2 separate regions of the Homo sapiens genome follow, and region 1 is linked to region 2. Evidence: fine-mapped expression QTL. A gene starts in region 2. The other region holds a variant in brackets. All regions are shown on one strand. Distances are between the middles of the regions.

Region 1 (12,554 bases), 87 kb after region 2:
GAAACTGTGCTCTTACTTCATGTCTTTTGAATAAAGAAATTCAGCAAATGTACCCATAGGAAGGCATGGGGCCTACCAAATACTTGCCTGGCTGACTGAATTCACCTACAGCCCATCAACGTATCCATTTCATTGAGTGCTTATTTTCAAATACATTATTGCTTCCCAAGAGAAAGCATACCCACCTTACACTGGAAAGCACTTTATAGTTTGCAAGAAATCCTTTTAATGATCATGAATTAAAGTGGGGAAGATATGTTGCTTACATTGCTTTACAAATACAGAAAATGAGATTTGTTCAAGTTTACGCAGAGACTCAATCAAGAACCCAAACCTAGGACTTCACACACTGAGGCCAGGGCACCTTCCATTCCAACCCACTACCTCGAGAGGCAGAAAAGCCTGGTGGTTAAGAGTGAGGCATCTGCACTCACAGTAAGTAGGTAAAAATGGTGGTTCTACCACTTACTATTTTGAGCTGAAACAGGTTTCTCAGGCTCTGTGCCTCAATTTCCTCATCCGTAAAATGAAGATAAGAGTGGCAACAACAACTTCAATGAGGTTTACTTGAGTAAATACAGCTTAAAAAATCTGAACCGTGTCCAATACATAGTAAGCCTTCCATAAACGTATCTTCATTACGATGTGAGGTGGTTATAATGATCCTTGCAGTTCATATAATGATCCTTGTGGTCACAAGCTGTGAGCTTGTCTTACATCAGAATCACTACTCAACAACGATCACTGTAATATGATAAAAAGTGCTAGGTTAAAATACTGCTTTGTAACGTGATACTGGAAAGGATGTTTTTAAAAGACAATTTAAAAGTGTAATACACCAGACTCTGTAACTGGAGAGAGGCACTCCCACTGGCCTTGAAGAAACAGGCTGCCATGCTGTGAACAGCCAACATGTGGGGCCCTCAGCTGAATTCTGCCAACAACCATAAGTGCTTGGAAGTAGGTTCTTCCCTGTTCAAACTTCCTGATGAGAACGCAGCCCAGCTGCCACTTTGACTGCAGCCTTGAAAGATGCTAAGAGGGTCCCTGAGTTCCAATTTATGCTTGAGAAACATCCAGACTCCTGCCCTACAGAAACCATGAGATAATAAATATCATTTTTTAAAAAAGGAATATACCGACCATAGCAAGTATTTTGTAAATAAAGAGGGAAAAAGGGAATAACATCAGTCTTATCTTTCCTTGGTAATGCAGTGACCATTCTGCACATGCTCTCCTAGTCTTTCTTCAGACATATGATTTACTGTATAGTGAATAAGAATATGCAAGCAATTTTACGACCTGAATTTTTTGCTTACATTATACATATTCTCCCATGTTAGTACATATAGTCTTCACATTTAGTATTTTTCATGGATGCAAACTTTTCTATCAAGAAGGTGAAGTAAAATTAATCAGTCTACTACTGTTAGACATTCATTCGGCTTCCAATATTCTACTATTATAAATAAAACACTACTATCAACATAGGCATGTCTATATCTTATTTTATTTTTGAGACAGAGCCTAACTCTCTGTCACCCAGGCTGGAGTCCAGTGGCACGATCATGGCTTACTGCAGCCTCAACCTCCCAGGCCCAAGTGATCCTCCCACATCAGCTTCCTGAGCAGCTGGGACTACAGGCACACACCACCACGCCTGGTTGATTTTTTTTATTTTTTAAATTTTCTGTAGAGACAGGGTCTCACTGTGTTGCCCAGGCTGGTCTCAAACTCCTGTGGCTCAAGTAATCCTCAATGTCTCAGCCTCCCAAAGTGCTGGGATTATAGGCATGAGCCTCCATGCCCTTCCTGTATCTTTATTTTTTAAAAACGTATTTTGGATTAGTCCCTAAGAGGAAGAAACCTGGTAAAAAAAAAAACTATCTCTAAACCAAATATATTATGTCTGTCTAAGCCAATTTAAATAATACGATAAATATTTAGAGCACTAGTTTTACCACATTCTTTTGAGTATTGAATATCTTAATTTGTAAAAAATTGGGTGGCAAATGGTACTTTGAGGTTTTAACTTACATTTCTCTAATTACCAGAGCAAATTTACATGTTTATCTACATGTTTATTTCAACTTACTGTTTACTCTTTTAAAAAATTATGCTTTTTCATCTATACAGTACAGATAATACCACATACTGCACACAATTGTTGTGAAAATCTCATACAATCATTTAAATGAAAATACTTATGAAGTGTGGCAAAGAGCAGTTGCTCAATTTTTAGTTTAATGAATACATTGATGAATAAGTGGTCAGTGAAACAATGACCAACAGTATTAATCTAACAGTCACGTGGAAGGTAGGCAGGCACAAAGCTACTCGTGGGGAGAAAGTGAAATTTTCTAGGTGACCTCCAAAAGATGGCAAGTTGATTGGCAGAGGAGGAAGATGTCCCTGTTGCTTCTTTCCTATCAGTGCCTGCTGACCTTCAGGGCAGATATGAAGGGTGTCCCAGTGGGGCACACCCTCAACAAGTGGAGAGATGCAAGTAACTCCATACACCTTTCCACCTTCCTCTTCACCACTTCCTCCCCAACACCCAGGATGCCTAAGAGGTAAAAGCTCCACCTCTGCTGATAATAATAGGCTGGCCTTGAAAGGGACTATTCCAGGCTCTTCTACGGACTGTTTTAATGGATGGAGCTGGAAGCCATTATCCTCAGTAAACTAACTCAGGAATAGAAAACCAAGCACCACATGTTCTCACTTAAAAGTGGGAGCTGAACAATGAGAACACATGGCCACACGTAGGGGAATAACACACATTGGGGCCTGTTGGCGGGGGTGGGGGAGTGGAGGGAGAGCATAAGGAAAAATAGCTAATGCCTGCTAGGCTTAACAGTTAGATGATGGGTTGACAGGTGCAGCAAACCATCATGGCACACGTTCACTTATGTACATCCTGCACATACCCCAGAACTTAAAAATTTTAAATAAAAAAAGAAAATACAGGGTATCCTCTTATTACTTGAGGGAAAAGCCAGTATCTATATTATCAAAAGGGAAACTATCGTGAAAATCACTTCATTAAATAACAAAATTGCTTGCTATGTGACTGAAAGGCATCATTTTCTCTCCTTACGAAATACAGATCCCACAAAAATAGTTTGGTTGAGACTTACAAATGGAAGTTAAAATTAGATCATCTCTATAGAGGACCTACACAGGATGTGAACTTGGTCCTAGATTTCAGTTTCTGATGAAATACCTTGCAGCTCTTGCTCACAGACAGCTGTTTGAAACCAGAACGCAAACAATTTTACTTTTCTGTTATTCAGAATCTATTCTGATTATATCCATAACAGTAGTAAAAAATAATTCAGAAAATAATAATCATGAATGAAACGCATCATTCATTCCTCTGCCTACCAAGTGACCAGTAGTATGAGCCTTCATATCTCTTTGATGCCAAGGATAGCTGTTTGAAGGAGGAAAAGCCTTAGAAGGTGGGTCTGATTGCAACACTTCATCATCAGCTCAGCCTCCGCAATGGTTTATAATTTACTCGGTAAAAACAGATAGTCAAACATTGGTCAAGACCACGTACAGGCATCCAGAAAGATATCCTAGCCTACTGCACTGCACGTAGCTGGAAAAGTTACGTGCAAGCACCATGTTCCCTTATGAAACAGACAGCTGCCCTCCAGAACTTGGTCAGTTTGCATGTTCTTTAGAAAACAGTAGTGTCAGACCACAGGCATAAGGGCAGGAGAAATGGTTCCTGACGAGAAACCAAAGATTACCCATTTAAAAACAAAAGCCAAATGTGTATGCTATCAGCACTGGTAGGAGCAATTTTCTGCAAAGAAGAATATTTATGTTCTCCAGGTCATCTTATGAAATGACTAAATAAAAAATTTAAATAACTTAAGGGTCCTGATAAATGATGAACAGTCTTCAGACTAAAGTCAGACTGCCTTTCCAATAACAGTACCAAGGAGTCCAATTTTTCAACACATAAAAAACATAGTTTGTAGCAGGAACAGCCAAACTCTGCATGATAATCTCCAAAAGTTGAAGCTGCTCAAATAATCATGCCCAGGGTATGATCACTGTGACCTGAGACAATGTCAGGTATTGTCACTGTGACCTGAGAGACTGACTGCCAATTATGTACAGAAGATGGAAATGGCTCTGGGGCTGAGATGTTTTCAGATGTAGGAAGGGATTTCTGCTACAGAGGGGCATCAAACTGTCACAGCTGGAAGACCCATAGAAAGTATTGGCCTAATCCTGTCATTCTGCAGCAGGTAATGCAGCCCCAAACAAGTTAACTGATGTGTTCAAAGTTTCATAATGACTGAGATGAACCAGAAAGTCCAGGAAACAGAATGGAAATTAGGCCTGTTTGTGACACTCAGATTTCTCCAACCCCAACGTTAGGGTGTTCTGATTAAACGAAGAACGGCTTAAGTAACTGAGAGCAAACGTGGATTCCTGGAAAAAATAATTCAGCACCTTATTTGTCCCTCTTCATTCCAGAGCCTGCATTTCCCATCAAGACAGCCCACTTCCCGGGCTCCCAGCTCCAGCTCTCCAGGGCTTTCCCCAGAAGCGCAGACAGTGCATGGACAGCCAAGGCACAAGGCCATGGTTTCTGCATCCTCTGTCTTTTCCCAGTTCGCAGAGCCGGAAGTGGTAGACTACAGCGACAGATTCCTCTTGGGGTCACTGTGATCACAAGGAGCAGAAGCAGCGGACTAAGCTGGTTTTGCTTGAAATGCAGAATTTCTGCTCATCAGCATATGGCTGGTTGGCCACATGAATAACTCTTCTCTATTACATAATCCATCTCTTTAATTTCCTGTCCACACGAGTATATAAGTCTGTGGGTACGTGTCTTGTCATGTTCGCCATATATGTCAAAGTGTGTGTGGAGGTGGCGGGAGGTTACATGCATGTGTATTGTGGTGGCTGCTGTTTAGAAATGAGGGTCAGCTCCTCCGATATTCTCCCTTCGAATGGCCATTCAGCAAGGATCAGTTTTTGAGCCTGATCTCCATACAAGAATGGTTGGTTATTGCTTTAAATGTAGGATTGCCTTATTCCTAAATGGCCTTGAATGGGGATCAAACTAACATTATGAGGAAGAAACAAAAACATCCCTGTGCACTTTGACCTTAGATGTTCAGTACCATTGTAGAGTCCCTGACTGCTAACCACCAAGCGACAAAACCACATCACAGTGATGCTTACAAATAAGAGAAACGTTCTTAAGTGTTTAAAAAGCCACTGTAACATGATATTCTTCCCAAATTATCACACCTATGTAAAAACATTTTAAAATCAAGACTATCTTATTCCCTTTTGGCATCAAAATACTTAACTGCATTTTAATGCTGTGCATAAGGAAATGGTTTACCTTCCAGCATTTTCTGCAGACTGTTCCTCATGACATGGATGTTCTCTATCCCGATAAACTGAAACTTGATATTGGAATAATTGTCTTCATTCTCATAGCCTTTCCCTGCAGCACGATTTGCCATTGCATTAAGCTGCAGTGGTCAGCAAAACAGAACAGTCATCAATTACATTGATGAAACAATGATGAAACAACCAAAACATTTCATGGATACCCAATCAAAGCATTCAGAATGATGTACGGAAACATAATACGCTTATTTGAATCACTGCAACCTTGTACTGAACTACATAGCTTCAGGGACTCCTGCTGAGCTTATATTCAACAGCATGAATTTGTCAGTGTGGGTCACATTTTCTTAGCTGGAAAGCAGTCTACTGATAAACCCTTCTGGAGATGTCACTTGCAGTCCCCGTCAGAGATGCCAAACTGAATGTGGAATTCTGTGATGGAACCAAGTAGTCCAATTTAATACCACACATAACCGGTAGGTTGGCAGAAGAATATCAGCAGAAACAGCTGTCAAAATAAGGCTCTATACATTATTATATCTTCTAGTATTAGATTGCCAATAAACACGTTATCAAATAGGAATGGTTGCATCATTCTAATTTGCCCACAAGATCCCTCAGATGCCCAGTTAAACCTTGAGCAGGAATTACTGAATAAAATGAAGAGAGGGAATGCAACCAAGTCTCCAGAGACATTTCCACCAGCCGCCTTATTTAAATCTAGAGATCTATTGGGCTTTTTGATCACTTTCATTATTATAATTTTGCATATGAGAAGTTGGGGTCTCCAAGTGCAAACTAGGTTAAGTCACAGTGGTATCTGAAGAAGTTTATTAAATCCAAACACTGTCCTAGCCTGCGTGGCTAAAATCAAGAAGGGGACAAGTCCTACTTTAGCTGGGAAATGCATCGGTTTCTAGAATGTGTAAACATTCTTGCTATTTTATTAAGCAGGTCATCACATCCTAGAAAACAGCATTCGCTGACCATTCTCCTCCTCCACCCACCAAGGACAGGAGGGCTAACCCAGGCAGAGAACCTACACTGAGAACTCACCACCAGAAAAAAATATCTGCTTTTAAAAGCACAGTGCACAATAGTACTTTTTAAAAGCTAAAAGAGCTAAGTTTAAAGTTAAAGACAC[A/G]TATGTTCTTTGACACAGATCTCCTAAAAGTCTGACAAAATTAAAAGTACCAGCACATAAAAATAGATGCCCAAGAATGTTTATTGAAAAAAGCTGAAAACCCATGACTATCTCAATAGGACAATGACAGGATACACAATGGTTTATCATGCCCTGACCTGCGAGCAGTGACCAAGAAGGAGGGCACAGATCACACAGCAGACAGACAGATGCTCTGAGGCTTACGATGGGGTTATATCATGATGAGCCCATTGGAAGTTGAAAATGCCGTAAGTGAAAAGTGCATGGCAAACTGGGAGCTGCTGCCGCTGCTGCTGCCCAGCATCACAAGAGAAGTACACTTTCTGAATGTCTATTGCTTTTGCACCATTGTAAAAAGCCACAAAATCATATAGGTCGAACCATTAAGTCAGAGACCCTCTGTGCATAGACTTGGCATTGGCCCATGACAAGTGAAAAGAGTAAGCTACAGAATAATATTCATACAATCATCCATTTTTATAAAACCAACTTATAGATATGTATTTAAGTTTTTGCGTGTTTATCAAGCAGAATAAAAATGTATAGAAAACGGTACCAATTTGGCAGCAATTACAGCAGAAAGACAGCATGGCAGGCGACAGGAGAATGCCATCAGTACTACTTTGGATGCCCCTGTAATCTTTCATTGATACCGAGAGCATATATGAAGTTTGTAATTGAAATAATAGAAATAAAGTATATTAGAAGTGAAAAAAACAGCAGAGGATAAGCCATTGCCATAGGAGCCCAGGCTGGCAGACACCTCACATTTCAATAGCAGCCCTGCTCCATGACGTGGCTTATGTGACATCAGCTGGGCCACATCAGCCCCTCAGGACACTGTTCCCATCCACAAAAGGGTGTCATCTTTCTCCCAGGCATGCTACGAGAATAAAGAGTTTGGCCTTAATCAAGAAAAAAATATTAAAATAATGCATTTTAAGACAACTTATGTTCACACTTTAAGAAGTATAAATATTTTATAGGGAAAACTTTTGTAAAATTACCTATAGACATTGTTCTTCCAAAACTAATAAAATATCACTGCTTTGTATAATTATTTTTCAAAGATGTTGGTTTATCCTTTATAACAAGCATCATAAATAAAATTAATAGGAGATTTGAAAGTATCCTTACGTGACATGAACCTTACGTTTATGCTGTATCTTGACTAATTCAAGTGAAGCCTATTCACCACATACCACAGAGATACTCTTTTAAAAAGCATAAGAAAGAAAAACCAGCCAGGCACAGTGGCTCATGCCTGTAATTCCAGCATTCTGGGAGGCAGAGGTGGGGAGATCTCTTGAGCTCAGGAGTTCAAGATCAGCCTGCGCAACATGGCAAATCCCCATTTCTACAAAAAAATGCAAAAATTAGCCAGACATGGTGGCATGTGACTAGTCCCACCTACTTGGGAGGCAGAGGTGGGAGGACTGCTTGAGCCTGGGAGGTCAACGCTGCAGTGAGCTGTGATCGTGCCACTGTACTCCAGCCTAGGTGACAGAGCAAGACCCCATGTTACTGATCATTCTCCTCCTTCACCCACAAGGGACAGGAGGGTTATCCCAGGCAGAGATACAAAAAAAAAGAGAGACAGACTACACAGTCTACAAAAGTTAGAATGTAGAATAGATTTTTTAAACATAAACAAAAATTAAAATATTATTTTAACCTATAATTAAGACTCCATGTACACATTATGAAATAGCTGATTATCCTTGATCTGGGAGAACTGATTGGTAATCTCCCTTAAAAGCAAAGCAGCAACACAAATAACCTCCTGAACATCAATGTGCACTTCTCAGAATGAACAGAAGGTGGCAATATTTCATCTACCAGCTGAAGTGTAATTTCTTAGGATCTCCACCTTTTTTACAGGACCTATCCTGATAATGTAGCAAAAGCTGAACCCTCAAAGCAGGAGATACGGTTTTACAATTAATAAAAATTCAATGTTATCTTGGACATTTTACGTGTATGTGTGCGCAGTAAGATACGGCATCCCTTACATAAACAAATCGCTATTACTACATCAAATACGGTCCTCTGTCCCTTTGACTGAGAACTCCATTTCACAACTAAAGAAAAGCTATGCATTTCAGGTCCTAAAAGTTCTCAAGTAGATAAAGCAATAAAGGTAGTCACTTCAGTTCCAATTCATGTTTAAGAAACACACAACAGATAGGTGAAAAGTAGGACTGCAAAAATACCCTGTTTCCTAACACAAGGTTCATTTGCTGTTTGATAATATCAGTGTCTTTGGGTGCAGAGAAGTTAATAAATGAAGCAAAGTCAACACTGTATAGACACCTACTATGGCCAGGCGTTAAGTGGAATCAAAAGAAGCTGTTCCTGTTGCCTTCAGCTTAGAACTGACAATGGAAAGGAAAGCACATGGCACCCAGTGGTCCCAGATGACATCCACCAGGACTGGGCAAGAGCTGAGCAACGGGAGAGACAGTGACAATGACAGGAGTTGAAATCTAAGGAAACTCTGTCGGCCTGGGGATCAGGGGTAACGTTTTGTTTAAGAGAGAAAGCTAGAGCTGGACTTTAACACAATCTGTAAGGATGGAGAGAGAGGGGAGGGCATTCTACATAACCAATGAGCGAACCACTCCAGGTGAAGACGAAGGTTCCTGTGTGGCAGCTACAGCAAGAGGGAAGGCTAGAAAGCACTGAGGGTCCACTACAACAGGCCCAGCCAAGGAACTGAGGCTCCACCTGTGGCAGCGGAGAGCAACTCCAGGATTTTGAGCAAGTCTAACTGAAAAACTGGAGACTGATTTAGTGTCCACAACAGAGAAGATGCACAGGAATAAGGAGCGAGCAGAGAGGGATGGGCACGGAAAACCTCAGCGCTGACAGAGAGGAGGGACGGAGAACGCAGGCTCCACGAGGGGCCCTGAGTGTCTCATTGATGGCCACATCCGTATCCTTCAAACCGGCATGGAACAGGCACTCAAGGAAGATTTACTGACCGGCTGAGCAACTGCATAAATGACTGGATAACAGAATGAGGCCCGGGGAGAGCAGGCCAAGACTGTGAAGAAACAGCATGAGATTCTCACCCTAACCCTGAATCAATCAAATGTAGAAAAACTCAGTCTGTGTTCATCTTGGTATCAGGTTAAAGGTCAGCCTGGTCACTGCCTTAGTCCTCAAGTCTACCATTTCCACAGCTACATTTAATGCCTGAAGAATGACAGTGCCTACGCTGACATGGTTGGGAAATGACCGTACAAGCTGATCTTGGCAGGAGGGGGACTTGGTCTTGCCCTAACACAGGTGGTCAAATGACGGTCTTTCTCTCTCCCTCCTATATAACTGGTTACAGGAAGAAACTTCACTTGTGGTGCAGACACAAACATGTGAGTTGATTTTATTCCTTGCAACTATTCTCTACAACTGTGCTAGTCAAAATCCTCCTTTCTACCCGCTAAGGACCTCTTGGGCAGATTTAATAGCATCAGGTTTACTTACATTCAGATAGAAAATCTCCATCCGGCCTAACTTAGAATTCCAGTCCCGTATGTGACGCAAAATTAGCTCTTCCCCGCCGCCTTACAGGCTGTGTGGACTGCTGAGGGGTTTGCTCCGGCCCACCCTCCCTCTCCTCTTTATTGTAGGCCCTATCTGTGTACTGGGAGGATGGGTGCAGAGGAGGGAGAAGAGAAGAGGTAAATTTCTCTTTGGAAAGCTCGGCAGGGTTCCAATTCTCTCTTCATCGGTTGACATGAGTTGGTCACCACTTCCCTCTCTGGCATAGCGTCCAAGTGCTCAATCTCCCAAGGTATAGATGCAGGTTTTTGGAGGTAGGGAGTACACATCTCACTGAAAAAGGAGATGCGCCTTGGCTTGAGTCTATTCCAGTACGCTCAACTTCCCTCACCAGCACACCCACCCCAGTCACCTACAGCTGAAGACACCCGGCGGCTGAGCCCTTTTAGGAATGCTGAAGCAAGATGGCTCATGCTCAACTTCCTTCCTCAGGCTCCACTGGACCCACAGGAAATTTCTCCATCCTTGCCCTGCCAAAAGGAGGGAGCACAGATTGCTCCACGGCCACTGGACACTGCCCTCGCCCCAGTTCTCTTCACTCTGGTTGCTGCCATGACGGCCACCAGCAAGTGTGAGACCCCCGATTCCCCTCTCTCAAGCACCCCTCATCTCTACCACTGACTTTCCTAGGTGACCCCTCCCAGGACTCAGCGAGTAGGAACCACCTACTCACTAATTCCAGAGAAAAAGAAAAACATCCCACGTGACATCCTGTTACACAACTAAAACCTCGCTGACCTGGTGAAATCACGGGGCAGAACCACAGCAAAGTCTCTGGAGAAGGAGCAAGGACAAAAGGCCAGGCGTCACGGAGGCAAGCGCTGCCTCGCCCTCGGCCCTTCTCTTCATGCCTCAGCACCCCCTCCGCTGGCCCTGGCTGCGTCAGAGGAGCTGCTGGGAGGTTCTCTGGCCTCGTCAGGCGTGTGCTCAGAGGTGGTAACCCCACAGAGCTTCCACGTGGAAACGAGGCTCTGCTGGAGAATTTTTGTAAACAGAAAAAACACCATGGTCAAACGGAGCGAGTGTGGGCTCTGGGGTTAGATAAGCCTGGATGTGAATCCTGGAATGTAAACTGTGAGACCCTGGGCAAATTACTTAACCTCTTTAAGTTCTAGCCCTTATCCATGAAAAGAAACAAAACAAAACAAAACCCTCCTAACTTGCCAGGATTCTTAAAAGAACTAAATGAGAAAGTACCTTGGCTGGGCACCGTGGCTCACGCCTGTAATCCTAGCACTTTGGGAGGCCGAGAAGGGCGGATCACCTGAGGTCAGGAGTTCGAGACCAGCCTGGTGAAACCCCGTCTCTACTAAAAATACAAAAAAATTAGCCGGGCGTGGTGGCGGGCACCTGTAAACCCAGCTACTCGGGAGGCTGAGGCAGGAGAATCACTTGAACCCGGGAGATGGAGGTTGCAGTGATCCGAGATCGTGCCACTGAGCTCCAGCCTGGGGGCGAGTAAAACTCCGTCCCAAAAAAAAAAAAAAAAAAAGTGCCTGCCATTTTTACAAGCTCAGCAAAGTCCCAGAACAAATTAATGACAAAGTCATGAACAAGGCTGCAGTGAGTTAGCCCTCATTTGAAAATTCAGCGAAGACTGCGACAACACCTTCATATGTTCTTAAAGCGCCACACCCTAGCACTAATACGTGCCCTGAAGAGTATAATTTTTTTTTGGAATTGACATTCAATACATGCTTGAAGACTTCATTGACTTTGTCTCCCAATTTTTTCTTTTTCTTTCGAGACAGGGTCTCACTCTGTTGCCCAAGCTGCAGTGCAGTGGCACAATCACAGGTCAGTGCAGCCTCAAACTCCTGGGCTTAAGCAATCCTCCCACCTCAGCCTCCCAAATAGCTGGGACTACAGGCCCATGCCACCACATCCAGCTCATTTTTTTCTGTTTTTTGTAGAGATGGGGGTCTCACTACGTTGCCCAGGCTGGTGTCTCCCAAAAAATGTCAACAAGTAATTCTGAGGCTTTCATCTGAACAGGCAGCTCTGGAAGTTCTCATGTGGGGCTAGCCTTGCTCAAAGGCCAGGAACGATTCAGGTCAGCTCCTAATCCTTTTTCTTTTTAATGAAACCTGTGAGCAAACCTGAGAAGTGCCTGCTTGCCAGGGTCCACACCTTCTAGAGCAAACTCAGTCTCCTGGCTACCAAGGAGGCCTAACACACTCTGGAACAAAAATCAACATACACAGTCTTTAAAAGAATGAAAGCTCTAAGTAAACAGTTTAAAACTCACGTGAAGTGTGCGTGCATGGATAAATATGAGAAGAGGGCATGGCTTGTACGAAACCCCAGTTTTCTTTAATGGATCAGTGTCAAACTCATCGCTGAGAGTAAACACACTTAGCACTAAATATACCCTTCAAATCAAATCCTTTGGATTAACTTATTTTAAATCTGGAATATGCCTGGCTCTACAGCT
Region 2 (12,477 bases):
GACAGGGTCTGGCTGTCATCCAGGAAGCAGTGGCTTGAACACGGCTCACTGTAGCCTTGACCTCCCGGACTCAAGCAATCCTCCTTTTGTAGCCTCCCAAGTAGCTGGGACTACAGATATGAGCCACCATGCCTGGCTAATTTTTCTATTTTTGTAGACAGGGTTTTGCCATGTTGCCCGAACTGGTCTTAAACTGAGCTCAAACAATCTGCCCACCCTGGCTTCCAACTGGCCTCCCGAAGTGCTGGGATTACAGGAATGGGCTACTGCATCCAGCCTTCCTTCTTATGGCACTCTCTATCTCCTTCTTTACACTGCCACTTTCCTTAAATGAAGCATCAGCATCCTTTCTGTTACCACCAAACCCAAGGTGCCCTGTAATTTCTACTATCCTATTGAATTACTGCAATCACCAAAAGTGATTTTTCTTTTTTGAGACGGAGTCTCACTCTGTCGCCCAGACTGGAGTCAGTGGCATCTCGGCTCACTGCAAGCTCCACCTCCTGGGTTCACGCCATTCTCCCGCCTCAGCCTCCCGAGTAGCTGGGACTACAGGTGCTCACCACCACACCCAGCTAATTTTTTTTGTATTTTTAGTAGATACAGGGTTTCACCGTGTTAGCCAGGATGTTCTCGATCTCCTGACCTTGTGATCCGCCCGCCTCGGCCTCCCAAAGTGCTGGGATTACAGGCGTGAGCCACCACGCCCAGCCTAAAAGTGAGAATTTGTTAAAAATTTGTTTTAATCCTCTTTATCAGTGACATTATTTCCACAGAATGCTTCTCTTCTTCACAGCTCATCAGTACTCCACTTCAATTTTCATGGATGTATCAACTCCAAATTCAGTTTGGAGAGAATTCCCATACGTTACAATTGTAATTCTTAGACTTAGGCAATAGAGAGAAAACAGAAGAGTTACAAAACACTGAGTTATAAAGACCACGACCAACTTTCCTCAGTACTAAATCCCTAGTGTCTAGCACTGTAACTGACACTCATTCTAGCCACCCCATTAAAAAGTCAATTTTGATCTTTCTTCCAAATTTCCAAGATTCTCTTCACGGTGCTCTCTCTATATTAGGCATTACTCGTTTATCTTCCAAATGACTTCTTCTACCTAATGTTTTTCACTGTATCCTTCTCCTTAAACATCTCCTAACATCAGTGTAAATCAAGCTTGTCCAACCTGCAGCCAGTGGGCCACATGTGGCCCGGCATGGCTGTGAATGTAGCCCAATACAAATTTGTCAACTTTCTTAAAACATTTTGAGATTTTTTTTTTTTTTAGCTCAACAGCTATTGTTAGCATTAGTGTATTTTATGTGTGGCCCAAGACAATTCTTCCTCTAGTGTGGCCCAGGGAAACCAAAAGATTAGACACCCCTAGTGTAAATGGTAGCAAAACTTGGTAGTAAACTTTAGCAGTCATTTTTGAGTAAGAAAGAAAAAATGTCACTTACAGGCTGTACTAAGAAAGCAGTTGTTACTCGAACAAAGGTGTTTCTAGAAAAGGAAACTGTCAATTTTATCCAAACTGAGAAGCTGATGGGTTACCTCCTTCTCACGTACTGAGATCACAATAGTATCTAATTTAAAAACAATGTTCTAATTCACTTGAACAAAAAGTTAACATGGAACAAATGAAATGGTAAAGCACTAATTTTAATAAAGGTTTATCATTTGAGAAAAAGGATAGGAGGCAATTTTCAGTGTTTCACAGATGTAGTTCTTATAAAAGGTTTTCAGTTTGAGTGGAGTACTTTGCACCCTTTATAAATGAGGTGTTCAATCTTTTGGCTTCCTTGGGCCATACTCAAAGAACTGTCTTGGGCCACACATTAAATAAACTAACTTAAACAACAACAAAAAAATCTCATAATGTTTTAAGAAAGTTTACGAATTTCTGTTGGGCTGCATTCAAAGCCATCCTGGGCCAAGGGTTGGACAAGTTTACTTTACAAGGTTCTGTAGACTGTGCGTGTGTGTATAGATACAGGTATTTTTAGAGACAAAGTATCACTCTGTTGCCCAGGCTGGAGTGCAGTGGTGCAATCTAGATCACTATAGCCTTGAACACCTCAGTTAAAGCAATCCACTTGGTTCAGCCTCCCTGTACCTGTAGTGCTAGCTACCTGTACCTGTACCTGTAGTGCTAGGACTACAGGTACACAGCCACCATGCCTGGCTTAGTTTCATTTTTTTTTTTTTTTTTTGTAGAGACAGAGTCTATGTTGACCAGGCTGGTCTAGAACTCCTGGCCTCAAGCAATCCTCCTGCCTTGGTCTCCAAATGGAGAGTATATTATTAAACCCAAAAGAGTGAAATGGAGAGTCAGGCTAAACACAGTGTAATTACAAGCCACACTACTATACCACAGGCATCATTACTCTGCTTTTCCTAAGCCCTACTTTCGTAAAATTGTGTATACTAAATATCTTTGTTTATCTGACAAAGAACAGGAAGAAAGAATTCATACATTGGCACTACCATTAATTGCCTACAGTTTCTTTCACTATTTTACCTACCAGATATTAGGATGTATGACACAAATGTAGGATGTCAAACAGAAGAACAATGCAATATTGCAACATACAGTTAAGTACTCACTCAACGTTATCAATAAGTTCTTGGAAATTGCAACTTTAAGCCAAAAGATGGATAACGAAACCAATTTTTACCACAGGCTAATTGATAAAAACAAGAGTTAAGTTCCTACGGCATATTTCTGGTCACAAAAAAATCATCAAACTTCTAGATAAAGACCAAAATACTTCTAATATTAAACAATGAAATAAATGTGAGCTATATGTAAATTTAAGAACAATTAATAAAAACAAGATAATTATTTGCTCCATTATTCAGTTGAGGGGTGAAGAAAGCCAGAGCCTATTCTGGCAGCTCAGGGCACAATGTGGGAACCAACCCTGGTCAGCATGTCGTTCCGTGGCACAGTGCACTCACACAGATACACCTACTCACTCACACTGGGACAACTTAGCCACACCATTTCACCTAACGTGCACAGCCTTGGGATGTGGGAGGAAATCAGAGGACCCGGGAGAAAATCCACATATACACGAGAACGTGCACACTCCACTCAGGTAGTGGCCCGGGTCAGGAATCAATTTTATTTTTTATGAAGGTTACCATGAAACAATGTTGAAGAAAATGTCATTTGAGGTCCTGCTGTAATAAGAATGTATTATTTTATTTACCCAACTTAGTTTGCAAATAATCTGCCCCTCTCTAAAAACATCTAAAACTTCCCTTAGCTATCAAGACTACTTCTATTAATAATACAGAAATATTATAACTAAGGAAACTGGGTGAAGACCCAGGGCTTGAGTTAGAATGAAGATTCTGACATATGATAAACACCAGGTTCAAGGATACTACTACTTCTCCTATATGTAAATTAAGAGAGCTTTTGTGGGCTGAAGTGGCAACCTAATGATAATACTGACTTGAAAGGAAAACGTACCCAAGGTTCCAGAAAACGTCTTACTGCATTTGACATGTAATCTACTCATAAACTGGAATATGAATGCAACAAAAATCTTCACAAGAAGGATAAATATTATAAAAGGCTATATTTCAAATTGCACACAAAATTTTTGAAAGTAAAACTAATGTAGGATTATTTTTTCTATCAGAAGTACTTTCAATACCCAGTCTTCCAAATACAAAAAAAGCTGCAGTCATATTTTAAATATAACATCTTTAACATCAAAGTATTTTTTTTGGTCCCATAGTAAAAAAGAAAACCACGCTTTTGAAATGTTACGTTTTATATATTTCCAGGATAACTACACCAAATTCACCTAGCATGTCACCATACTTGAGGAAAATCAATTCCTAAGATTAAAGAAAAAAAAAAAAAAGTCTGGGTTATACAGTTATTTCCCACTTACGTCAAATTAAATTTAAAATTAAACTGCCAAGTTGAAGTTCCTGGAGGGTATTCTCCTTGCTCATTCATAAATGTCAGTCCTAGCTGAATTATCTTTAACAAGTCTACATTACACCGCAATAGTTGGTATTGATAGTCAGCATTGCTCCTGAATTCTCCAATGGGTCTTGCAACCACACCTGGAAACTCGGTGTCCTGTAAAATAGTTTTAAGATTCATTATGTACTAAACAGTCAAAACTACAATCCACACATTTTTAATTTTTGATGCAAATCAAAGAATCCTACAGATGATATTCTACACATTTATATTCAATTACAAAGTATATTTTAACTAGAAAGAACATCACTTTTTAGAACCATAAAACTCTATAAACTTAATAACCTTTCCTTAAATATATCCAAAAAGTTACTATACGAGATACATGTGATAAATTTAACCAAATACTTACTCTATAACCAAGAAAGGGGGGAAAATCATAAATTCCTGTCTCCCAAAGGATACATGAAATGATGCTCACAGTATTCCAATGCTAAAACCAAGTTTCTTGAAGAACTGGTTCAAAAGAGGGGAAAACGCCCTGTACTTTCCAATTGCTTCTCTGACACAAGGTTTTTCTCAACACCAAAACCCTAAGAAAAACATCATTAGCTTCCTAATTTCTCTGGCTTAAACAATATTCTCTCTATAGTCCACAGAAAGCATGCTGTCAAGAATTGCATGCCACCTACTCACTCTTGTAGGATGTTATCACTTCTCTATGTTGCCACTCTTTATCATCTGAGAAATCAATGATCACTATGAATTTCCATTGGTTAAGAAAACAATTTTAGTTCTAATCATGGGTAAGTACACCTTTATCAAATAGTATGTCATCTACAAAGAAACAGTCATATTTTAACCAATCAACTTGCTCCTCCCCAAAGTAATGCATTTGTTTATTTTTATTAAAAATACTGAGACAAAGATACATCGGTTTAGTATTAGAATTCAAACTAGGGCTAGCTAAGAATAAAAACTACCTATCAAGTCACTATGAAATAGTAAAGAAATCAATATTTCTCTAAATTCAGTGCAATTCAACAGCCACTTTATTGAATACTATATGTGTTATGCTAGGTGTTGGGAGAGAAAGGATTAAAACACTTGGTTTATGGAGCTAATAATAATCCAGTGGATGTAGAAAACAGTAGGGTAGCTAACAGATATAGACAGTATAATGGTAAAGAAGAAAAATCATTAACTGGATAGACAATCTAGGCAGACCAAACAGCACGTGCAAAAGCAGAGTTGCTTAGTAACACAGTATATTCACAGAACTCCAGTGTTAATTATGAAAACAAATTGCAGACCAACAACGTTTCACTGGCACATCTGATTTTTTTGTTTGAGAAAGAGCACCCTAGCTTCTGGGAGCTCATGTGGTACTACCAGCTAGGCTTTGGTGTTGCTAGGAGCAGACCTGGCACTCATAGCCACGCCCTAATGTTCTCCTGTTGAACACAATTTCACAAAAGTTCAACCTCAAATAAGGCCACTCTGTAATCATGTCTGAACAAGGACAAAAAAATAAAAATGTCAAACCACAAAATGACCAAGTATCTCCATCCTGGCTAAATGAATGACTGTTCCTTCTCTGCAGCTTTAACCTCATTCTAGTCTCTCATTTAAGACTTAGTAAGATACCCAATCACAGAATTACCCCAGCTTCCCGAACACATCCAATCCACAGTAAAGCTCTGCTTCCCTTACCTTCCCCTAAGACCACCTGACACGAGCCCAAATCCTTCCTAACTCTTATTCAAACGGCCCATGGTTCCCATGAATTCCAGTGCGTTTTCCCTCACTGCAATGAGGGATAAACCCAACCTGTCAAATCACAGGTGTATTCCTGATGGATTTTGGCTGGAGGGCAGTGACAAATTTTACTTTTCATGGTGAAATTAATCCCTAAAAATATCAACCAAAAGGGTTGAATTCAAGACTTTAAAATTTCCTTTTCCTCCTTTATATGAAGCGTTTTAAAGATCTGCTTGTGGGCATACCATAGCAACGTAATTATATTTTCGGATAACTTGACGAATTTTCTTCATCTCTTCATCCAAGTTGCAAGCCCAAACTTCACAAATTCTTTGGCTATGATCTACAGTTGCCGCTGGCATAGTGAGGGCACAAGGGAGTCTAGATGCCAAGCATCAAAATGTTATACTTGATTGAAGATTTGTTTCATAAAATATTTTATCCTTTATTTATGTACCTGTCAAAATAAAAAAACAATATGAAGACCAGATATATCAAATCTGAATCACAGAATAATTGATCCAGCAGGAACCTAAGAAGTTATTTATTCAAAGTTCTTGACTCATAAAAAAAAAAAATCAAAGTTTAGAAAGTAACTTAAGGTCACACAGCTAGTCTATAGGAAAAAAAGGACTACAGTACAGATTTCCTGGTCCTAATTTCAGTTATTTTAAAATAGCTTTTTTACACATACATACTAATCATATTTTATAACTTTCCACTAATTATTTATCTGAGTTCAACTACTCTGCATAAAACTTTATAAAGCCATCCATTTCCAGACAAAAAATGAAAAATTACTTATTTACATGTGACAAGATCAGATGTTACCATGGCAAAGATGGTGTTTATTTTTATTCCTCATTAATAAAACAACCAAAATCCGACTTGATAACAAGATCTACTTTACCGGCGTTTATTCTAACTAGACTAGAGGGGTCAAAAATGTTTGTAAATGCTCTGAGAAAAAAGTAACGGCCATGAAAATTATCTGAATGTTCGCAGTTGCAGAACGGAAAAAGAACACAATAGAACGTCTAAAACTTAGAGCATATTGCATGGTTACCAAAGATAGATGTCACATTTCTGGTCTATAAACAGAGTTCCTGTTGATTCTTGGGCAGGGAAATTTCAAATCCTTCTGCATTTTTCATACAAATTGGAAAAAAAAAAAACAAGAGTAAAAAGAGGGTCTTATGACTGTCTTCTAAACTCTGAAGAGTCACAAATGTAACTTCCAATTCTCCAAGTAGAGAAACTAAAGGAGATCCAGGACACCCCTCCTTTATAACTCTCCCACCCCGATAGGCACACACACACACATAAGCACAAAAACACAAAGACTTGGAAAGACCCTGTAGTCTAACATTGTTTTCCTCCACCTCTCTCTCTACTGCAGTCCCAGAAGCCCCGAAGAGACACCAAAGGCCTTCTCATTACTGGAGAAAGCATCTCCGTACTGCAGTTTCCCAGAGAAACGAGAGGACGGCACCGAGGTATTCAAGCCATAGATAACTCTCTTCCCTGGCAAAGCGCCAGTGCGAAGGTGCTGATAACACTGACTGGAGCTACACTGACTCCCAAGCACTGCCGCGTGAAACAATACGAAGAGGTGAGGATCTAGGCCACCGCCCTCCACTCCCAATTTCCGTCCCACTGCGAAGCCCCAGGTACAAAGCCTTTGCGTCATCACTACGCGCCAACCCCTTGACAAACCCCCAGCCCCAGTTACCCAGCCCCCAACCCGCCGCCAGGCTCCTTCCTCCGCCAGCCGCACTCCAGCTGGCGCCATCGCGCACCCTCTCAGGTTCATCGTCCCCGCCCCCTTTCTACTTCCCTAACCCGCCCCTCCCCCCGTAAGGCTGCAGCGGATGCAAGATCTACTTGTGTCGCTGAGCTCGCGCTCCTCCTCCTCCTCCTCGCCATAGAGACAGCACTCGGCGGCGGTGGCGGTGGCGGTGGCGGTAGCGGCGGCGGCAGCGGGTGCCCCATAGACACCTCTCGCCCAGCGAAGGGAAAGGCGAGCAGGAGCTGCGCCGCACCGTGCTGCGCCGTCGCTTTTCGCACGTCCTGACGGGGGCGCTAGATGATGACGCGACACGCAGAGGGGGCGGAGAGCGCCCCCGGGGGCGGGGCACGCAAGTGACGGCGGCGCGGGTGGTGGAGCGCTGGGCGGCCAGGCTCCCTGGCTGGCCGGTTTGGGCGTCTGGGCCGTGAAGGTGGGACCTCCTGTTCCGGGCCGCAAGTTTCCCTCTCCAGCCGCCCGCCGTTCGTAGCATGTCCCCCAGAACTCGGGGAGCGCAGGCAGGACAGGCTTAGAGAAGACGCGGTCCCCAGCGCTTGGGCCACGGACGTCCCACCCCGCTCCTCTGTCGCTGGAGAACCGCCGGGCCGAGCCACTGGGAGAAGCAGGCCAGAGCCTTCCAGGGCCTCCGGCCCGTGGACCCGAGGAGGATGAGCTGGCTTTTTCCCCTGACCAAGAGCGCCTCCTCCTCCGCGGCTGGGTCCCCCGGTGGCCTCACCAGCCTCCAGCAGCAGAAGCAGCGCCTGATCGAGTCCCTCCGGAACTCACACTCCAGGTGACTGGTCGCTGCCTCTCCACCGGAGGAAAAAGTAGGGTGGGAGGGCGGGCTTGTCCTAACCACCCTCACAGCGCCTCAGTCTGCTCCCCACCAGCTCCTCATGTGGTTTACCTCCCTTGGTTGTGGGTCACACGCTTGCTCTGCCACTCCTGCCCCCTTTTACTGTTTTCCTCCGGACCCTCCCTGCCTCCTGCCGCACCACTGCTCAGCGCTTCTAACTCGGATTTCCTCATCCCTCCTGACACATAGCTGCTGACTGTAATCTCTCAATCTCTCTCATAGTCTATTTCCAGTATCCCTTGCTGCCCAGGCTTCGCCACTGATCTTTCCCTTTGCCCACCTGATTGCCGCGTCAGCAGAATTGTTAAAATACAATTGTGAAGAGTAATCTCCAGGTTTCACAAAGAATGGAAAATAGAACTGTTGCAACATCAAAGGAAAGGGAAGCCAGAGTTTTCATCAGTGAATGCTTCTCGTCTGAGAGTCACTTATCACGTAGTCAGTCTTCTTGAGTCTCTAAGATTTACCCTGTTGGAGCAGTCTCTCCCCATCTCACAGCGACCAGTGCATGTACATTTCTCACTTCTTTCATAGTCTTGTCCCCACGCTCAAGAATTACTTTATGTTCATCTTGATTGTTCTGTTGTCTTCCTGTGAGTTTTTCATTTTATCATGGTCAGTTTAGAAATATTTTTACAATTCATATTATTTCAACTTTTACTGTAAATTGGTTTGCTGCAGCCTTTTACATTGCAAATGTCTATGGTCTCTAATGGTTTTCAAAAATTAGAACTGCTTCTTTATATTTTATGCATTTTGCAAGTATATTTACTTAACAGTTTCACACTATTTTAAATAAAGATGACAACATTGTTAAGTCCCTAACCCCTTTTTTTTTTTTTTTTTTTGCCGGGGGTACGGCTCTCCTGTTGCCCAGGCTGGAGCGCAGTGGCGCGATCTCGGTTCACTGCAACCTCCGTCTCCCGGATTCAAGCAATCATCCTCCCTCAGCTCCCCACACCCCTCCGAGTAGCTGGGATTACAGGTGCGCGCCACCATGCGCGGCTAATATTTTGTATTTTTAGTAGAGACGGGGTTTCACCACATTGGTCAGGCTGGTCTCGAACTCCTGACCTTAGATTATCCACCCGCTTCGGCCTCCCAAAGTGCTGGGATTACAGGAATAAGCCACCTCGCCGGGCTCCTAGCCCTTTTAAAAATATTATTTTCATACAGTTAAAAAATATGTATCCTCAGATAATATCGAATAATTCTTATTTAAAATGGAATAATTTTTAATTAAATAGTCTAGTTAATAGAAAAATTTACTGCAAAATCAGTTTGGCTAAAATAAGGCCTGATGCTGACTGAACTTTAGGTGTTTCTTGGTTCGTTGTCTCAATTGTTCTGTTTGTTCAGAACTTTCAAAAGGTGAAATTTTATGCTGTTTAACAGAAAAGAATGGCAGGCTGTTATTGGTGGCTTTCATTCTGGAAAATTAAGTTCGCAAAGTTCTTACAAGTCACTCTTACTCCAAATCATGTTCTGTACTGACCTTTAAGAGCTACTCTCACAAGGTATGCTTATAAAATAAGGGGACTCGTTTTTAACATGTTTGTTCCCTTAGAAGTTGTTACCTTGGTAGACTATATACCAAACCAGTCCTGCTATTGCAGAAACACTTTTTTAGAACCACACTTTTGGAATTAATTGCTTTTAAACCTTAGTATGTAGTATTATGTTAAATATTTTCAATGCTGACTAATTTTTTTCTTCGAGGTTGGAGTTTAATTTTTTAAATACTACAAAGTCTCTTGCTGCTAAGGCTGGTAAGTAAGGGAAGTAATTGATGTGAAATTTATAATTTTGGCCTCCCAAATAAAGTGAGATTCTATAGCAGCAATTGTTAATGTAAAGAGTTCTGGAATTGGCTTAAGAGGATCAGTAAATACGCGGAGTTGGATACAGAAAGGATTCATTTTATGTATTATTTTTTGAACCAGAAATTATGAACGTATGATTGGACATGATTACATTAGATAATGTAATTTATTTTGTAGTGTTATGAACAAATAACTAAGTATTTTATTGTTTTAAGTTCTTTTATAAAAACACTTGAAGTTTTATTGAGATGTTTCGCATTTACAAATTATACTCGAATAATTCCGGAGACACTTAAGTAGGTCATATGCTTCCAGTTTTCAAAGAATGGCACAATCCTGGAAAATGCCACTCACCTATTCTTGTTAGTCCACCCTTTTAAATAATGACATATATTTGTAAGCTGGGAGGTAAAAAATAATCTGTCTGTATGGTATCTGATGTAAAGATGGAAAAGGTGTGATATTTTTTCTCATCAGTCATAAGGGGCACAGCTGACCCTCCTGTAACAAAAGACAGGTTAACAAGCGAAAAGCATAACAGATTTATTTAATCAAAGTTTTACACTGCATGGGAGCCTTCAGAAATGAAGCCCCAGAGACCGAAGGAAAACTGTCTGTATTTATGATTAGGTTCAATGAAGAATGGACAGCCATGTAGAAATGTGATTGGACAAAAAGAGTATGGTAATGGTAATAGACAGAGGTAGGGGAAACCCACCAAGGCCTGTTTGTTCAGATTTTTCTTGGCTTCTCTGTATAACTTTCTACTCCTCTAGTGGACCGGCCCGGGCTCATATGGAGTGAGGGTCTTCAGGGCGGAAGGGAAAGTGACCTTTCTAGATTTTTTGTAGGGAAGAAGGGTTGTAGTTTGTAATATACCGCCCAGGGGAGGAGGAATTCTGGTTTCTATGACTTCTTCAATGGAGAAAGAGGGGCAGGAGGTGGTCAGAGAGAGCTTTACTTCTGAGGCCCTCCAGACTCCTTTAATTCAAAGTAATCAGCCTACCAAAGTGCAATATTTTGGGGTATTGTTTTCTGAGCCCCAATACTGGCAATATGTTGCCTGATTACCTAAATTAGTGGTACGACTTACACTTAAAAGATTTTTGTGCGAACAGACAGATTGGTTATTCTAAAGGTGTGGTGTGTAAAAGTTGAAAGAATTTCCAGTGTGTTTTTTCCTATGAACAGTACAAAAACTTGTTACATGAGGAATATCAATATCTTGTTACATGCTGTCCATCTCCCTCATGTTTCGTTTTATGTCTCTTCTCCAAATGTAAGCTCAATAGGTGAATATCTTTTTTTGGCCATGAAAGTATCTTTTCTTCTGCTCTACTGAGTAACCTTTCTCTACCCCATTCTGTCATCTCCCTTCCAACTCTTACAATTTTTAACCCCTTATAATTCCGAAAATTCCACTTCAGCAGTCTCTTTTTGTCCCTTTCTCTAATGATTGTGAACTTTTTAGTTGCCTTAAATTCTTATCTCCTCAGCTACCTCAGTCTTCTACAAAAAAAATAGGTGAATTTTATGTAAATTTTTTCATCTGAGTCTCAACAATATGCACGGCAAATGAGATAACTGTCATAGATGACACTCACAGAAAAGTGTTTAACCAAAGTGTTTAAGTCAGCTGTGAAAATGGAAACTAGAAATTATGCCTCCTGGGCTCAAGTAATATGTTCTCTCTTCTAAGTATCACTTACCACAGTATTCAGTTTATCACCAAAACTCCTGACTTTATGGACAGGAGTAGAACTAATTCTGTTTCTTATACTTCCTGAGGAAGCTGACTTTATGGACACTGTTGGTTTTTCCCTCTGCAAGGCCCATACTTTGTGGAGGCTGGAATCTTTCAACCCAGCCTCCACTAGAGGTGAATAAGGATTGTTTATGCCAGTGATGATGGTCTCATCACCCTTCCCCCCAAGTTACTGTGGAAGCAGGACTCTTGGTTAGTGGGAGTTGGAGGGGAAGTCTGCTGGGGAGCTGCTCAAAATGTTTTCTCAGCAATAGTAACAAATGACTGGGAGGAAGAAATGTCTCATGTTTTGGATATTTTTATGTGAGACAACCCTGATCCTCCAATTCCTATCTGTAAAATCAGCAATTGTGATTCCTGTCATGCAGGATTTTTGATAACTAAAAAATATATGTAAGACATTTGGAAGAGTATCTAGCACATAGTAGGCATAGGACGAATTACATTCCTTCTTTCTACTGCATAGAATCAGTGTGCTTGAATCTTTGCCTCTTAGCCTATAAGCTTCTAGCCAGCTTATTGTTTGTAGATCTCTC

Evidence for each region.
Region 1: its variant is fine-mapped to the expression of VPS37A in cerebellum (GTEx, PIP 0.94).

What each region holds. Positions count from the first base shown.
Region 1 is chr8:17,325,770-17,338,323 of GRCh38, forward strand. MTMR7 (myotubularin related protein 7) reads right to left here. Exons shown (of 14, transcript NM_004686.5): 7 at 5,381-5,513. It also overlaps a transcript of VPS37A not described here. Among named protein-coding and RNA genes, the nearest start is that of MTMR7, 81 kb to the right of the region's middle. RefSeq lists enhancers at 726-895, 10,074-11,273 and a silencer at 8,711-9,005. The variant A/G (reference allele first, on the strand shown) is at 6,536.
Region 2 is chr8:17,239,080-17,251,556 of GRCh38, forward strand. VPS37A (VPS37A subunit of ESCRT-I) reads left to right here and starts at 7,879. Exons shown (of 12, transcript NM_152415.3): 1 at 7,879-8,290. The coding sequence starts at 8,166. It overlaps CNOT7 (CCR4-NOT transcription complex subunit 7), which reads right to left and starts at 7,778. Exons shown (of 7, transcript NM_013354.7): 1 at 7,596-7,778; 2 at 5,957-6,168; 3 at 3,913-4,106. The coding sequence starts at 6,073. RefSeq lists an enhancer at 7,527-8,375.